Regions from separate parts of the Homo sapiens genome. Here region 2 is linked to region 1. The links come from fine-mapping of genetic effects on plasma protein levels. Region 1 holds a variant in brackets. A gene starts in the other region. All regions are shown on their forward strands.

Evidence for each region. PIP is the chance, under the fine-mapping model, that this variant and not a neighbour inherited with it causes the effect. The UK Biobank Pharma Proteomics Project read protein levels with antibody pairs (Olink). The fine-mapping took linkage between variants from a reference panel, not from the people measured, so its PIPs are less certain.
Region 2: GDF2 starts here. The variant in region 1 is fine-mapped to the plasma level of the GDF2 protein (UK Biobank, PIP above 0.99).

Annotation. Positions count from the first base shown.
Region 1 is chr5:103,000,683-103,006,070 of GRCh38, forward strand. It overlaps PAM (peptidylglycine alpha-amidating monooxygenase), which reads left to right. Exons shown (of 26, transcript NM_001177306.2): 17 at 2,351-2,467; 18 at 4,472-4,544. Among named protein-coding and RNA genes, the nearest start is that of GIN1, 120 kb to the right of the region's middle. The variant C/G (reference allele first, on the strand shown) is at 2,353.
Region 2 is chr10:47,319,279-47,324,666 of GRCh38, forward strand. GDF2 (growth differentiation factor 2) reads left to right here and starts at 3,176. Exons shown (of 2, transcript NM_016204.4): 1 at 3,176-3,736. The coding sequence starts at 3,391.

The DNA.
Region 1 (5,388 bases):
TTCAGAAGGGGAAGCAAACACGTCCTTCTTCACATGATGGCAAGAAGGAGAAGTGCCAAGCAAAAGGGGGAAAAGCTCCTTATAAAACTATCAGATCTCATGAGAACTCACTATCATGAGAACAGCAGAAAGGGGGTAACCACCCCATGATTCAATTACTTTCCACCAAGTCCCTCCCATGACATGTGGGGATTATGGAAACTACAATTCAAAATAAGACTTGAATTTATGGAACTTATGTAAAGTCTCAGTACTCTACATAAATAGGAGAACAAAAAAAAATTATTAAATTATATTCTTTGGCCATTAAAAAATACACCACACAATTTGGGTGGGGACACAGCCAAACCATATCAAACCTTAAAAAGAGATAGTGAATGAAGAAACTTTAACCTATTACATATGAATGTGAAGGTTACAATATACTGAGTCTCAGATGTGCTGAACTTGTTAGTCATTATTATAGTCACCTTGGAAAAATAAAAGATTATTAATGGTTGAATCCAGTACCTATGTTTTTCAGAGGAATAGTTATGATGTTTTTAGTAAATAAATTCATATTGAAAATAAACTTTCAGATATAGGATAAATTATTTGGTGTTTCATACTAGCAAGAGTGACTTCATATTTTCCCTTTACCATTTTCCCATAATTTAATAATACTATGAGTATTCTTACATTGGTTCCTATCTAATAAAATTTCACATTTCAGTTGATAATGACCCCATAAATATCTTATGAAATCTGTTTTGTTAATGATGATACTTCCATTTCATAAATTTATTTTTTTCTAGATACCACTGTGTGGTTTTTAACTGCATATAATAGCATATATAAAGAGTATTACTGAAGTTTTAGATTGACAAAGCTGAATCAATATTTTGTGTTCAATTGAATGCATCATTAATAAGAACTACTTCAGGGACTTATTGTTGTCTTTCAGGAAAACTATACCCAAAAGACTGTAACAGTCAAGTAGCTCAGATAATTGTGTGGTGTATTTTTTAATGGCCAAAGAATATAATTTAAGAATTTTTTTTTGTTCTCCTATTTATGTAGAGTACTGAGACTCTACATAAGTTCCATAAATATGGCAGCCAACTGATGAATGGATTCATGACAGATCCAAGCAGTCTGTTACCTTCCCAAATTGCAAATATATAATAGCAAATATTTAATGTTATTCAGATTCTTCTTTTGCTTAACCAGTTGCACTACAAAATATTAATACTTTTTTCACAATCTTGCCTGATGCTATAAAGGCAATTCTGTTTTACAGAAATATTCATAAGTCATTTATTGACTTGATATGTATATTTATAAACACACACACATACACACCCACACACACACATACACACACACCCCCCTCAACTATGTACTGATCCAATCCTTTTTTGAGAAGATAACTTGGTTTCTTGTTGTTTCATACATTTACTTCTATATTACAGAAGCTTAGATTAGAAGAGCTTATCTTTGTCATTCATCCCTGTTGACATATAACTTCCCAAACAGAAAATGAAATAAGTACCATGTCTGTGATAATTGTGAATTTAAGAAATTATATTACTAACAATTTAAATGGAAATATAATTTTGAAAGTATATATATATGAATATATGTCCATAATATTTTATAATAATCTAAAAGGTACTGAGTTTAAAAGCAGAAATTGTCATATTTAAGTTTTTTAATTAATTATTGCATAGTTGTTCATTTTGTAGTTATAGAATAGCTGTTATTTGGTAAGTTTTATGCCTCTAAGCATATTTTTGTCTCGAGGATAGATTCGGTTTTGTAACTTTTAAATACTTTGAACATCCTCTTTTATATCTCTATAATATGTATATGCATGTTGTACCTAAAGTATAATAACGAACATTTTGATCACTGCTCTTCCAGCTATTATTATAATTAATGACAAAGTTAAAATAAGTCATATTTTCTTTTGCAATATGAAAGAAAATGTCTATTGAATGACTGCATACTCTTTTGAAGAGCTTTTGAAATTTTTCAGGTACATTAAGAGTTCTTGATCAATGTTTCTCAAACCCCAGTGAGCATAGGAACCACCCAAGGGTCTTGTGAAAATGCAGATTCAGGTCCAGTAGGTCTGAAACTGCATTTCCCAGCAATGCCAATGCTTCCGTTCCACTGACCACCCTGAGTAGCATGGTTCTACAGGTTAATGGGGTATATTATAATCCAAATGACTGAAATGTGGCAGACAAAGAGTGAAGTCAAATACATTTGAGCTCTTTTGATTTTGTATTTATGTGAATGGTCTGCATTTCTCAATTTCATTGGAATTTATGATTGTTTCATGTCCTATTTAATGCTTTTTGTTTAGCT[C/G]GTTTGACAGCAAGTTTGTTTACCAGCAAATAGGACTCGGACCAATTGAAGAAGACACTATTCTTGTCATAGATCCAAATAATGCTGCAGTACTCCAGTCCAGTGGAAAAAATCTGTGAGTTAAATGACTTATGTTGTTAAGACTTGTACTACATATATTGAGTATAAAGTGTATCATAGAGTCTTGAAATTCGAGTGTTTTGTATAACTGCACTTGAGAAAGCAGAAAACTAACTGGGCCATCCCATCTTTCATTTTCTACATAGGTGTTTCTAAATCTTGACTGAATATTAGAATCATCTGGGAAGCTTCAAAATATTTAGATTCACTTATCTGTTTGCCATTTGTATGTTTTCTTCTGAGAACTGTCTGTTCAGGTCCTTGCCTATTTCATAATTGCTAAATGAGTATATTTGGAATGTTCTCACCTCAAAAATGTTAGGTATTTGAGGTGATGGATATGTTCATTAGCTTGATTTAATCTCTCCACATTGTATACATATGTCATAACATCACATTGTACCCCATAAATGTATACAATTAAAATTTGTCAATTTGTCCTTTAAAAAATTAGATTTAGATTCTGTATAGAGTGGGGCTAATAATCTTAAGTTCCCAGGTGATTTTAATATGTAGTCAAGCTTGTTACATATTACATATGTAATATATATCTTACATACTTGATTAAGTGAGTTGCTGCTCAGCCAGATCTAATGATCCAAAAAAATTCTTCAGCAGAAAAATTCTTCAGGACAACCAAACTCATCAAGTAATCACCATTAAGTAAAAGAGCTTCTCTTTTTCCGTCTCAAAGTGAATACTAAACAAATGTCATTTTTAGCATTCCTTATCATGCGTATGTAATTTGGCTTTGAAAACTGCTCATTATTTAGTCTTATTTCGAGATGGCACTTGGCAGCCAAAAAAAAAAAAAAGTTGACTGATATTTATGGTCATTGAAAGAAGTGAGGGAGGCACTTGCTTACAGATCTCCTGAACCATTGTAACTTGACAGCTTCAGGAATTATACCCTTCTCCATCTGCTTAAGCACAGGGAAAGCTAGCTTCTTCGCAAGGTGGATAGCCACCGTTTTGAGTGCAGCTGCTTGGGAGATGATAATAATGATGCTTAGAATTTTTTAACAGCATTCTCAAGATTGTGTGTCAGGGGTGAAATGTTTGAACCTGTTTCATTGGTGCTCTATTTATTCACCAGAAGCACCCTCATTCCAGAAAGGAATTAAGGGGAAGGCAGAAAAACTACTGCTAAATCAACTTGGCCATCGGTGGAGTATCTGTTTGAAAGCAAATCATAATCCTCACATTCAGTTGTCAAAACAGGGATCTAGTTCAGCTAATTAGTCAAAATCAGAGTGTTACAGTTATGGCTTATGAAAAAAAATCTGTATTGTCAACACTACACTAAGATTAGAAGCTAACAGAGCTATTGGATTGTCGGATATCATTGGACCAAACCACCTCAATGTATTGTCCATGTGTCTGTTAGCTCAGTCCAGGTTCCTTACCTAGATCATTAAGATTGATTTGCCAGATTAACCTTCTCTAATGTTTATCTAGCTCACTATTTCACTTTGCTTAGATATTCACAGCCCATGTTGGCTGGAGGTTATGTGCTGTGGGTTTTACTGTCTTTAATAGGCACTCTTTAAAGCCTTTGAGTTATATGTCTAATAGTTTATATTAACACATTACATTTCCTTGCAACATGTTTTAACCGCAAACTATATCAATCCATTTATGTTTCTTAAGTCAGTTTTATACATATTTGTAAGATGTTAACACTTATGACCTCAGAACCTGTTTTTAAACTGATACTGTTTTCTCTAATATACCATACTTTATAATAAACATTTGTAATTTATATGTAGGCTTAATTTATAAATTTTAATACTATTAAATACTACCTAAGGTTTGTCACAAGGAGATCTCATTATAACAGTTTTTATTAACTATTCATTTTGTTCTTTTCTATAATAATGCAAGTATACATTTATCAATTTATAACTTTGCATTGTCTTTACAGATTAATTAGAAAAATTTCTGTCACATATGCCTTGAGAGTAAATGTGTAATTAACACAAATATTTTTATTTTGCAGGTTTTACTTGCCACATGGCTTGAGTATAGATAAAGATGGGAATTATTGGGTCACAGACGTGGCTCTCCATCAGGTAGTCTTCCTTTTGGTAATATTCAAATTAGAAGCTAACAGAGTTATGCTTTTGAAGAGCTCTGGAGTTGTATGGGTTTTTTGTTTGTTTGTTTTTTCTTCTGTCACCCAGTAAGTTATAACAAGAAAATAGAGCAGCCATGTCTTAGTTCAGCATGTTATAACAAAGTACTATAGTCTGGGTGGCTTATACACAACAGAAATTTGTTTCTCACAGGTCTGGAGTCTGGAATTCAAGAACAGGGTGCCAGCATGGTTGAGTTCTAGTGAGGGCCCTCTTCTGGGTTATAGGCTGCTAATTTCTCATAGTATCCTTGCATGGCCAGAGAGATAAGAGTGACAGTAATCTCTGTTATCTCTTCTTATGGCACTAATCCCATTCATGAGAACTCTACCCTTTTGTCCTGATTACCTCCCAAAGGCCCTGCTTCATATTACCATCATATTGGGGGTTAGGATTTCAACATGTGAATTTGGATTTGAGGCACAAACATTCAGTCCATAACAATCCACATCTGAAATATTTCTCTTAGAACTCAATGCTAGGGAAAGCTAGTATGTAAATGATGAAGTCACATTTGTCCCTTGGACCAGATATGAAGCTTCACTCAAATAACTACATGGGCCCTCCCAACCATTTTCTTAACTGTCTGTATTTGCCTTTATTTCCTCTGTTCCTAACTTGTTGTTGTTGTTGTTGTTGTTGTTGCTGTTGTTGTTGTTGTTTGAGACAGGGTCTCACTCTGTCCCTCAGGCTGGAATGCAGTGGCACGATCTTGGCTCACTACAGCCTCCACCTCCCAGGCTGAGGTGATCCTCCCACCTTAGCCTCCCAAGTAGCTGGG
Region 2 (5,388 bases), not on the chromosome of region 1:
TTTAAAAATTTTAATTAAAAAATTTTTGTCAAAGAGAAGCAAGCCTGTATATATCAAACCATGTATACCTCAAGTGGCTTCGAAAGTAAACCTAAGGCAGAGACTGAAGACACTTTGGTGTAGATTTTCTTAAATTTTATGCCAGTCTTTGCTTTATTTAGGTATAGACACATAAGACTACCATAATTCAGATCGTTAGTCTTTGAATAATCATGTGGACTGACTTCCCTGGGAAGTCGGTGAAGAATTAGAAAGTACACAATTTGGAGGAAGAGGGGGGAAAGGAGAGATAAATAAGACCTTCTGTGGTTCAAGTGAGGCAGCTCCTTCCTGAGGCCCCAACAATGCAAAGCTGGTGATAGCAGAGGGAGGGGTCCTTCTGCAGGAGGGAACATCCAGGGTCTGTTTCCTCCTGGGAAAATCAGAGCAAGTTTGAGACTTGTTCCCTAAGACCCAGAGTTAGGGGGATTTTCTCAGATGGACCAGGGTCCATTTGTATGAAAAGGTAACCAGGTCCCTGAAATCACCACCTGATGAAAGTGGGAGTCCCGCTGGTGACCTAGGCCCCCCGTAAGAGCCTACAGATTTGAGAAAGGGCTGGTTGGAATCGGTGTTTAACCATAACTGGCCTCTTACCTTCACCCAGCCACTGGCCACAGAGACACGCATGCTGGAGGTGGGTAAGCCCGGCACACGTCTAAGAACACTGTTACCTTATTGCCTCATGGGGGCCACCCCACAGACCTGGGCTAGAGGACATTCCAGCAGCTAAGAACAAGCAGCCGTTTAGACATGTAGGACCAGTGCCCAACAGCAAAGCCAGTGTTGTTGAGAAGCAACAGCAGGTGGGACCCCTCTCTCCCTCCCGCTTCCCAGCATGAAGAAGCTGGACTAACACCTTCATACCCTATCTCCTTTGGACTTAATTTACCCATGGAGCACTTGGACAATTCAGAAAAGGAGAAGACTAGACTTCCTGATAATATGGATCAGGAAACCTCAAGCAATCCATTTAATACAATGAAAGAGATGTGAACATATTGATATCTTGAGTTTGTGAGGCAAATCTTTTCAGATATACACCGGCATGTTGCATTGCACAGCTCCAGGGAAAGACACCCATGTCAGAGTCTGTGTGGCCAGCACCCACAGGCAGCTGTGATGACCCTGGATACAGTCAGGTCCATAGTCCTTCATCTGAGACCTCCAAGTAAAGAACCATCTGAGAACCTAGAGTTTCTTTTAATTCCTTTTCTGGGAAAACTTGACCTGAATGGACATTTGTGTCTTTATTTGTTTCACTGCAGAAATATTCATGTGTGTCATTATAAGGTGTTGTCTCTGACCCCTTTGGGAATGTTATTGCATATACACAATACAAAATCCCCCAAATCTGAAACTGTCGGAGTCTCAACACAATCCTGGCCACAATGGTTTCAGATATAGGATTGTGGAGTTGGATGTGTCTCAAAATGCTAACCATGGGCATCACTGGATGATTAAATTGTAGGTTATTTATTTTCTCTTTAATGTTTTCCATTTCCCAAGTTTTCTATACTATAGACTACTGTTATAACAGGGGAAAAAAATGTCACATTTAAAAAATAACGTCAGGTAGCAGCCCCTTGCTCCTCCCTGAGCACATCCAGGCCACTAGGCTATCCCTCTGCTCAGCCTCTCGTGTGTGAAAAGCTCCTGGCCAGACCATGTTGCAGGCATCTGCCCTGTCCTCACTCCTCCCGGACCACACCTCACTCCGCATTTGCAGCTCCATTTCTTGGGCATGGCACCCATTTATTCATCTTTTCTCTGCCCCATGGAATTCTTGCACTGAGCTGGATCAAAGCCCAGCACACTTCCAGTCCTCTTCCCAAGCAGCATTTCTGAAGCAGCACGCTTCCCGTCTTCCCCTGGCCCATGTCATCAAAGGACAGAGATAGCAAGTTCTATTCAGGCCCAGCCATTCAGGGGCTCCTGATTTCACCCATCCCCCTCTGCAATCTCTGACCGCAGCATGCTGTGGCCCCTCCTGCACCCCCCTAAACCTGCTCAGCTCTCTGCAGCCTCTCCCGGACAGCCTCACCAGCATAGAATACCTTCCCCAGAGTAAACCACCAGGCACAGCATACCCCAGAGTGTTTCTAACCATGATCCTTCTTTGCTTTGCTCAAAGCCACACGTGATGGAAATGGACAGAGTCTAAGTGTGGACATACTGCTCTTAACGCAGTCCCTGGGGCCCTTTCCTGGGCCACAGCTTATCAGCCTCCAAAGGCCAGGGGATCATCTTCTTGGCATGTACCACTCTCAGAACAACCCACCTACTCCCCTGTCTACCAGATTGCGTGGTTCTCCCTGCTGATGAGTGTGGGCCAGGTGGCTGCCAGGTTGGTGTGAGCTAAGACCACCCCACAACAGACCAGTGACACAGCTGGGATGCAGGGATGTGGGGAGCTCCCCACAGGCTGCAGTGTGTTGTGGAGCTCCGACAGAGCAGGCTGGGGGAACCCAGGGCTTCCTCCCCCAGCTCCAGCTCAATCAGGCCTGGGCTGGAGAGGGGGCATCCAGAATGCAGCCACCAAGCCAGCCTGGGGCACAGCATCCTCTTAACCCCTATAACTATCTTCTGAATGGGAGGCTCCAAGAGCTGCAGTGACTTGTTCCAGGTGACATTTGCAGGGAATCGGTGAGGGAGTTGAGATCCCAGCCTGTGTCTAGTTTGACTCATCACCGCACTAAATTGCACGGGAGCCATATTCACTCGTGATCTCTAATGCTCAGCAGTGCATCCCACCAACAGAGCAGGGAGGCTTGCTGGCAGGTTCCGATTCTGCAAGGAGCAGGCCTCTTCTGAGCCCTGATGTGGTCCCCACACTCTCCCCATCTCCCCAGCCCCCACGGTTCACTGTGATCTTGTGCTGTCCTTTCTATATTTGGAGGACTACTTGGTCTTGTTTCCTGGATTCTTCACTCCTGTGGCCCAGGAGATGGAGCATATGTCACCCTGCCTGGAGATTCTTCTGAAGAGCCCTGGCAAGGAAATGAGAAAGTATCCTAATTAGGGGGCAATAACCCCCTGGAGAAGCACAGATTCTTTACAGTAGGCCGTGTCCTTCCCGCATGCCCTGTGTGTTTGTCAGATGTTTATAGAGCCTTCATTAACGGAAGGCTCCCTCAGATAAGACGTCGGAGCGCGGCATCGAGGACCAGATAAGCACAAGTGGAGGACAATCCAGCCCGGCAGCGGGTGAGAGTGGGTGCTGGCCAGGACGGTTCCTTCAGAGCAAACAGCAGGGAGATGCCGGCCCGCTCCTTCCCAGCTCCTCCCCGTGCCCGCTAACACAGCACGGCCGCCTGCAGTCTCCTCTCTGGGTGATTGCGCGGGCCTAAGATGTGTCCTGGGGCACTGTGGGTGGCCCTGCCCCTGCTGTCCCTGCTGGCTGGCTCCCTACAGGGGAAGCCACTGCAGAGCTGGGGACGAGGGTCTGCTGGGGGAAACGCCCACAGCCCACTGGGGGTGCCTGGAGGTGGGCTGCCTGAGCACACCTTCAACCTGAAGATGTTTCTGGAGAACGTGAAGGTGGATTTCCTGCGCAGCCTTAACCTGAGTGGGGTCCCTTCGCAGGACAAAACCAGGGTGGAGCCGCCGCAGTACATGATTGACCTGTACAACAGGTACACGTCCGATAAGTCGACTACGCCAGCGTCCAACATTGTGCGGAGCTTCAGCATGGAAGGTAGGGTCTCCGCTTGCACCATGCGCGCTGGGGTGGGACTCACAGGTCCACAGCTGCTTTCCCCAGGGTGGAGGCCACTGGCCATAGGAGGCTCTTCAAGCTTCCATTTAAATTAGTTACAATGAAATAAAATTAAAACTTATTTCTTTAGCCTCACCAGCTTCCTTTCAAATGCGTGGCTAATGGCTTCCCTATCAGGCAGTGCAGACTGAAGAACATTTCCATGGTTACTGAGAGTTCTACTCAGCACTTCTGTTGTGAAGGATTCACCTTCCCCAAGCTGTGTGCCACATTTCACACAGCAGGTGCACAGGGATGCCAGCTCTCTTTTTTCCACCCCTTCTCTTTACTCTCCTCTTCTTTGCATCACTCCCCTCTGATTCACTTCTCTTCCTTTCCCCCTTCCCTTCCTGTCCCCTTCCTACTTCAGAACAGAACAGGCAACCTATTTCACCTCCAACTAACTGGGATATTTTTAAATTTTCAAAGCACATCTATTCCTTTCTTATGAAACGGTTTTAAAAATCAGATAAAATTCTTGGACAGAGAAGTGTTGGCAGAGAACCTAATTGTTTTTAAATAGAAATATATCTGATTTAGAAGGACTAGAAGATAACAAACACGGACCTAGGACCTATGTCCTAACTCAGACAAGCTCACATGATGCAGGGGAAATAAGTTTCTGAAGAGCAAAACTGTTCAGTCAAAGCTTGCAGCCACCAAGGGTACCCACCCATGTCACCTAGGAAGTGTTAAGCCTGCACACCTAGGAAGTGTTAAACCTGTCTGCCTGCAGAGCTGGCTTTTCCTGCTGCTGCTGTCTCCCTCTGAATGTCCAGGAGCACAGAGCCTCTCCCTTCCTGGGTCTGAGACTTGCAAATGGCTAAGGGGCCTGGCTCCATACCACGCCCAGGCCAGACCTAACTGGTCTGCAGAGGCAGGACTGGCACTTCAAAACCTGCCAGCTAGGTTTCCCTATAGCACAGGGTCTCCACACATGTGGGTATATAGCAAGTGCTGAAAAAATGCAACCTCTTTTCCCTGTCTGTGAACCAGCCATTGTATAGCAGGAGCGTGCTAATGACAAAGTGTCAGCCCAGGATAAATGGGATATCGAGATAACTATGTGGCTAAAAGCCAAGCCCCATTTTTGCTTGACATGACAAAGCAATTGAAGCTAATAGATTTTGTTCCTGAAACACTAAAACCAATTATCCACTTTTGCTTTGTTTGGAAATTACAATTTCAAACGATTTATACACTGTTTAGAGGCTGAGATTTTTGATATTGTCTTAATATTGGGGTTTCACTGTCCCCACCCAGGATCTCTCCTTTAAATTCATACACTCAGGATCTTCACTCAGGATCTGACAGTGAGTTTTTCTGTTTTCTTTATGTACTCAATAGCTGTGTGCTAGTAAGTCCCAGAATACTTAACTAGCTGTATGCATTTTGGCAATTAACTGCCTTGAATCCCAGTCTCCACATCTGCAAATGTGGAATAATAATTAGATCCTCCCAGGGTAAGTGAGAGGATTAAGGTGAAATGTATTCTGCAAAGCTCCCAGTGTAATGCCTGGCACATAGTAGATGCTCGATAAACAGTAGGAACTCTCAATCCCAATTGGAGGCATCTCCTTTGGAAGATCTTA